2 linked regions of the Homo sapiens genome follow. The protein of the gene in region 1 purifies or fractionates together with the protein of each later gene. This does not show direct contact. Each region holds a gene or a part of one and is shown in the gene's direction. Other genes may lie near its edges.

The links.
Region 2: the proteins of ARHGEF10 (region 1) and PTRH2 purify together in Homo sapiens (affinity purification with mass spectrometry; 3 studies listed by BioGRID and IntAct, with this or other methods). This does not show direct contact.

Annotation. Positions count from the first base shown.
Region 1 is NC_000008.11:1,955,665-1,959,506, forward strand, and holds the end of ARHGEF10 (rho guanine nucleotide exchange factor 10), read left to right. Parts: intron 1-1,084; coding exon 1,085-1,599; 3' UTR 1,600-2,977; downstream 2,978-3,842. UniProt on the Homo sapiens protein: May play a role in developmental myelination of peripheral nerves.
Region 2 is NC_000017.11:59,700,931-59,704,797, reverse strand, and holds part of PTRH2 (peptidyl-tRNA hydrolase 2, mitochondrial isoform b precursor), read left to right. Parts: intron 1-3,867. UniProt on the Homo sapiens protein: Peptidyl-tRNA hydrolase which releases tRNAs from the ribosome during protein synthesis. Promotes caspase-independent apoptosis by regulating the function of two transcriptional regulators, AES and TLE1.

The DNA of each region.
Region 1 (3,842 bases):
GGATGGGTAGCTAGGTGCTTCCTGAAAGGACGTGCACTCACTGTGTTTCTTTGGATGGTAGCTAGGTGCTACCCATTTGCATTACACATCAAGCCTCTGTATATTTGTGTGGCTGGCTCTGCTGACATGGGCAGAAGCTCCTTCTGGGGGCTTGCCCAGGGGCAGCATCGCTGGTGTGCAGGGATCACAGGTGTGTGCTTCGCCAGGTGATGAGCGGGCCTGTCCCTGCACAGTCCCCCCAGCTCCTGCTCCCTGCAGACTTCACTTTGCCACTCTCCTCTTTGGGAAATGGACTCTCACCACGGTGGAAGATTCAGTGATGTCATTTGCCTTGGCCAGAGTAGGATGATGGTGAGGGCTGGGGCCTGTTTCATCTGAAAGCACTTGGGGAAAGGACACGTGCCCCTGTCCATATGTCATGTCACCCACAAAGCATCCAGAAGACACGCCAGGTCCACGTGATGCTTACAGAATCAGTGTGGGGGTTGCGGGGCTGTGTGTGGCTTTAAGAAGACCTGCAGGTGTTTCTGATACGATCGTGACTTTAAAATTTGAATCACATCACCTGAAAACTGAAAGTCCTAATTTTAATCAAATTATAGAGTTAAATTGTTCTGAACCCCAGAACGTTTTTGTAATGAAAAATGGCAGGCAGCCGGTAGTTTAGTCATTTCTTTCCCAAACCAACACATTTCAGGCGTTAATATTTCTAATCAAGACTTAGGAAAATTTGGGATATTTCCATAGGGTAAGTAAGAAGGTATTTTATGCAGAATGGAAAAATGACTATTTTATTACTTTGAAAAGTACAGTAGGAGTATTAGAACTGAAATAGTGCTGAGGAAAACACAACTTTCTATTTTAGAAAATCATTTTTAAAGCCTTTTTCACATTAAGTAAAAACCCAGAGGAATATAATCCAGATATTTTCATCGTAGCTTATTATTCATGTATGCAAGTTACTTACAGGCTTTGTTATTTGGGCAGGGAGGAATGCGTTGGGGTTAAGCCCTGCACTTTTTGCTTCCTTGTCTCAAATTTTGCCTATTTTAAAAGACAGCTGTTGAACTGTTTCCCTTTTCAGGAAGAGGCATGGTCTCCTACCATGCACACAACAGTCCTGTCAAATTCATCGTCCTGGCCACGGCTCTGCACGAGAAAGACAAGGACAAATCCAGGGACAGCCTGGCTCCTGGCCCCGAGCCTCAGGACGAAGACCAGAAGGACGCACTTCCGAGTGGAGGAGCTGGTTCATCTCTGAGCCAGGGTGACCCTGACGCAGCCATCTGGTTGGGAGATTCGCTGGGATCGATGACTCAGAAAAGCGACCTGTCCTCCTCATCTGGGTCCCTGAGCTTGTCTCACGGCTCCAGCTCTCTAGAGCACAGATCAGAGGACAGCACCATCTATGATCTCCTGAAGGATCCTGTCTCGCTGAGAAGCAAAGCACGCCGGGCCAAGAAAGCCAAGGCCAGCTCGGCGCTGGTGGTCTGTGGAGGGCAGGGCCACCGCCGGGTGCACAGGAAGGCCCGGCAGCCCCACCAGGAAGAGCTGGCGCCGACCGTCATGGTCTGGCAGATCCCTCTGCTGAATATATAAGCAGGACGGCCGCCTTCTGCTGTCAGAATTTGCAATCAAGGGTGACTTCTCAGCTAATCCTACAGCCTGAGTGGTTAAGCTGTGTCTACACTGGTTGGGAATAAATTAAAAACAGTATTTGGGGGAGAAACGTGCAATAGCGTAATGGTGGTGTCCCTGCCAATTCCTTCCTTCTCTTCTGTACAGCAGAAGTAATTACAAGCACTTCTCACGAAGGCAGAAGACTGATGCAATTTTCGAGTAATTGAGTGCAGTTCTGGGAAAATACCACATTCTTTTTGACTGCTGTAGTCCATATGTGAATACTAAATGTTAAACTTCATCAGCGTCAGACCTATTGTATCATATTAGAGAATTTGCAGACTAAGAATTTATGAGAAAATATATGTATTCAGTAGTGCAGGCATTTATTAACAATTCTTAAAAGTTTTACCTGATTCAGATTCACGACTTTTATTTATATTCTATATTTTTGAATTTCAGAGTAAAATTTGTTAACAATTTTAAAAGCCAGGTAACACCTACCAGTCCAGTTAGCATGATTTGCTTTCAGAAGTGAGCTGGGTTTTCCAAAGTGGTATAATGTGTGTACTGTATATTTTAACAAAGTAATATTTTTGTATTGCATTTTTCTATTAAAAAATTAACAGTTAATGTTTCAGTCAATGTATTATCTGTAGCATTTCACAAATAATGTTTGCTTTGAACCAAAATGCTCAGTGCCTATCAACATTTGGACTCAAGCATCAACACCAAATTATTCCTCCCTTCTCGTATAAATAGAGTGACTATCCACAGGAGAAAAGTGTGTGCTTTAGTATTAGAGGAGATAGGCAGAGAAGTCTTGCTTAGTTCCTTCGTGCAGCTTCTTGCCCCTGTTGACGTGGAATGCTGTGTCTGCTTTAGCACGCACGCTCCGAATGACTCCTGGTGCTAGGCCATGCTGGCTGCTGTCACTGAGCGGGACTCAGGCCAAGAGGCGTGACCTCGGGCCAGCCTGTCTGTTGTGCAGACGCCTCCTCTGCAGAACGCATCAGTTTCTATTCTGCAGTTGCAGAGCCAGCCCCGCGTGAGAACGTGCATAATGAGTGCACACCATCATGTCAAGGTGCATACTTAGTGAGCGCCATCCTGCTGAACGTGTATTTCAGTGTTTCACTTACTGGACGGATAACAAGAAAAAAATCCTAACACAGGCAGGCACCAGAAATAAATGTCTCAGCACTTTACAGATGACTAAAAATGTTAATTTTATGACTTAGCCAAATATGTTCTAGGTTGCATATATCCCCCATGTGAAAGTGATTTCTTCCCAAGCTTCTCAAACTGTTAGCTGCTGTCTGACTTCATCAATAAAGTATTTTTATTTTAAAATGCAGTAGGATGAGTTGCCTCTTTTCTGTGTCAAGTGGAAAGGGACATCAACCTCGGGGGGCTGGGTGGGGGGCTTGGCCTGCCCGTTCCTAGCTGCATCACCACTTGCTGCTTTGGGGAGACTCCGTGTCTGAATCCCAGCAACGCACCCAACTGCGTGGAGCACCGCGCTCTGAATTGGAAGTAGGCACTGGGAATCTTTCAAGCAACTCATGTACTTGTTCTTTATTTGTTTGAAGAGACAAAGTCTCCCTCTGTCGCACAGGTTGCAGTGCAGGGGCGTGATCATGGCTCACCATAACCCCCTGGGCTCCCACAGTCACTGCAGTCTCAACCTCCCAGGTTCAAGCAGTTCTCCCACCTCAGTCTCCTGAGTAGCTGGGACTACAGATGCACACAACCACACCTAACTCTTTTTTTCTTTTTAACATTTTGTAGAGATGGGGTCTCGCTATGTTGTCCAGGCTAGTGTCAAACTCCTGACCTCAAGCAGTCCTCGTGTCTGAGCCTCCCAAAGTGCTAAGTTTCCTAGTGTGAGCCAGGAGTTGGTTGGCAGAATTTTGCCACCCTTCAAGCCTCTGATGGCGGCTCTGATCTCTGCGATTCTTCCAGGAAGGCAGGATGGATTTACTAATTTGGTAGAAAAGGGGAGGGGGGTTCAGAGGCTTCCAATTGATGTTCCTAATTCAGTGGTTCTGACTTCACAGTCATGCCCAGCCTACACTTGGCCATTCCATTTTGAGTTATGAGTAGAATGAGTTTCCTGTAAAATGTTCCTATTGTGGGTGTTTTACCAGACCAGGGCCAACACCTTACATGGAGAGATGAAATGGATGTGTAAAGTTAACTTGCTGGGACAGAAATCTTTC
Region 2 (3,867 bases), on another chromosome or scaffold:
AAAAGAATTCTCTGTCTTTGTCTCTTTTAGGGGGTGGGGGCTGTAAAGGCACTAGAACCATAAATACTATGTCTGTGCAGCCCTGTCACCGTATTTAGGCACTTGAGTGGAAGAGCACTGAAACTAGGTGCACTACAGCTTACCCTATGTGACCCTCCTACTCCTGGCCACTCCATGTCAGTCTCCTTTGATTCCTAATGTTCATTTCCTCAGGATTATGTTTTAGTCCTTTCTTCATTCTACATATTTGTCCAAGTGGCCTCATACTCTTCCATCTCTTCAGTAACTTCAATTATATGGTAAGGTCTCTCAAATCTATATTTCCAGCCCAGACCTTTCTGACTTTAAACTGATATATCCTAGACCTTTCTGTCCTTTAAGCTGATATATCCTTTTTTTTCTTCTTTCTAGATATCTCTGAGATGTCTTTTGTTCAGAACAAAACTAATTCATTATCTTTTCCATTCAAACCTGGTATTTCACCAAAATTCTCCATTTGTTCAAATCTAGCTGTCATTATTAACTTCTCCCTTTCTTTTGCCACCAGACTTCCTGTCAGTCACTAAATCAGACAGGTGTACCTTAGACACTTTTTTTATTTCTCATTCCCACTACTGTTGTCTAAATGACCATCATCTCATCTAGACTGCTGGGAGAGGCCTGATATAGTAATGTTAAGAACAAGGGCTCGGCAGGGCATGGTGGCTCACGCCTGCAATCCCAGCACTTTGGGAGGTCGAGGTGGGTGGATCACCTGAGGTCAGGAGCTCGAGACTAGCCTGGCCAACATGGTGAAACCCCATCTCTACTAAAAATACAAAAATTAGCCGGGTGTGGTAGCACATGCCTGAAGTCCCACCTACTTGGGAGGCTGAGGCAGGAGAAGCACTTGAACCCCAGAGGTGGAGGTTGCAGTGAACCAAGATTGCACCACTGCACTCCAGCCTGGCAATAGAGTGAGACTCCGTCTCCAAAAAAAAGAACAAGGGCTCGGCAGGGCATGGTGGCTCACGCCCGTAATCCCAGCACTTTGGGAGGCCGAGGTGGCTGGATCACCTGAGATCAGGAGTTTGAGACCAGCCTGGCCAACCTGGTGAAACCCCGTCTCTACTAAAAATACAAACAATTAGCTCGGTGTAGTGGCGGGTGTCTGTAATCCCAGCTATTTGGGAGGCTGAGGCAGGAGAATCACTTGAACCCAGGAGGCAGAGGTTGCAGTGAGCCGAGATTGTGCCATTGCACTCCAGCATGGGAGACAAGAACAAGACTCTGTCTCAAAAAGAAAAAAGAACAAGGGCTCTGGATTAAGACGACCACTTATGAGCTGGGTGAATTTAGGCAAGCTATAACTTGTGTACCTCATTTTTCTACATCCGAAAAATGGGGATCATAATTATATATAGATGCTTCTCAACTTAGGGTGGGGTTATATCCTGATAAACCCATCATAAATTGAAAGTACCATAAATTGAGAGCCAGGCACAGTGGCTCATGCCTGTAAATGTAGCTACATGGGAGGCTGAGGTGGGAGGGATCATATGAGGCCCAGAGTTCGAGACCAGCCTGGGCAACATAATGAAACCCCTGTGTCTTAAAAAAAAAAGTTTTTTTTTAAATTAGCAGTGTGTGGTGGTATGTGCTTGTAGTCCCAGCTACTGGGGAGGTTGAAGTGGGAGGATTGCTTGAGCTCAGGAGTTCGAGGCTGCAGTGAGCTATGATCACTCCACTGTATTCCAGCCTGGACAAAAGAGTGAAACCCTGTCTCTTAGAAAAGGAAATAGAAGTTGGAAATAAATTTAATACACCTAACCTACCAAACATGGTAGTTTAGCCTAGCCTACCTTAAAGGTGCTCAGAACACTTAATTTATTAGCGTACAATAGGGCAAAATCATCTAACATAAGGCCTACAAGTGTTGAATATCTCATGTAATTCGTTGAATACTGTACTGAAGGTGAAAAACAGAATGTTTGTATGGGTAAAGTTTCTACTGAATATGTGTTGCTTTTGAACCATTGTAAAGCCAAAAAGCTTAAGCGAAACTACAGTAAGTCCATGACCAGCTCTATTTACCTTGAAGTGCTGTTAGGCACATTAAAGAAGACAATTCCTATAGAGTGTTTAGCCAGTGTGTAGCAGAACACTTCATAAATGTTAACTATTACTACATTATAGCAGCCTCTGAAATGATCTCCCTGTATCTATTGCCAACTGCTAGTCAAGGCTCAGGTATCTTTTAGAACAGGCGTCCCTGTGGCCTGTTAGGAACTGGGCCGCACAGCAGGAGGTGAGTGGTGGGCAACTGAGTGAAGTTTTATCTGTATTTGCAGCCACTCCCCATCGCTAACATTACCTCCTGAGCTCCGTCTAATTAGCGACAGCATTAGATTCTCATGCGAGTGTGAACCCTGTTATGAACTGCCCATGCGAGGGATCTGTGTTGTGTACTTCTTATGAGAATCTAATGTCTGATGATCTGTTACTGCCTCCCATCTCACCCCCGATGGGACTGTCAAACACCTTTTTATAACATTTACCAGTCTTGCAATTATTTGTCTTCACTACTTATCTATGAACAGCTGACAGTGGCCCATATTCATCACTATATCCTCAGCTTAACAGGGTGTATGGCTGGCACATAGATAGCCAGTAAACATTTGTTTTATTGAACTTAACTTCTCTTGGTCTGAATTTCTTCATTTTTGATATGGCAGTAATCCTCACTTCTCAGTGGATCAAATAACAATACATGTCAAAGTATTGTGGAAATTTTGAGCTATAAAGACAAAGTTTTGGCCGAGCACAGTGGCTCACACCTGTAATCCCAGCACTTTGGGAGGCCGAGGTGGGCGGATCACGAGGTCAGGAGATTGAGACCATCCTGGCTAACACGGTGAAACCCTGTCTCTACTAAAAATACAAAAAAAAAAAAAAAAAATTAGCCGGGTGTGATGGTGGGTGCCTGTAGGGAGGCTGAGGCAGGAGAATGGCATGAACCCGGGAGGCGGAGCTGGCAGTGAGCTGAGATCGCGCCACTGCATGCTAGCCTGGGCGACAGAGCGAGACTCCATCTCAAATAGACAAACAAACAAACAAAAAAACCCCAAAGTTTTAAAACAGCATGAAAGAAATTCAAAATTAGGATTGGACCATTTCAAAACCATTGCTAAAATGTAAGCTTCATTAGAGAAAGGACTTTTTCTGCTTTGTGCACTCCTGTATCCCTTAGATTCTAGAACAGGGTCAATCAGTATTTGTGGAAGGGAAGCAGTATATCATAAAACTAAAAGAATTGAAAAAGTAGAAAGTAGTCACACTTCTATTTCAGATACCCATTCCTATAGCTATGTTCTTTGTAATTGTTCGTCTCCAAAATCAAAACCCTATGCATCGCTCTAAGTCTTTCCAGTTTACTTTCATTACACCTGTTCTTCAACAGCATGTCTAGATAAATAGCATGCATCACTTTATTGTCCATAAATCAGTCTTTGATAATACAGGTTGCTTTTTATCAGGTAGGCCAAAAGAGAAAAATGTAATAACACAGGTTGCATGGTCTATCATGTCAAACATTCTTACCCTTATCCTAAATTCCCTTGTACCACTGTGTCTTGGGGCGTGCTCCTGGCATAATTTAAACTTGGATACATCCAACTACCATTTCAGTAGGAGGGGAGAGCAAAGGATGAGTGTGGATGGAGGTTAGTTTGTATGTCTGGAGGAAGTGATTAGTAGTTTTAGTCTTTTGGCTTCTAAGTACTACTGGAGAAAATCACAAATAGTATGTTGCCATTAAAAAGTCATCATTAATCTTAACCATGCTTTCAATATTCCTCTGCAATCCTGCCATATTTTGCCACACCTTTT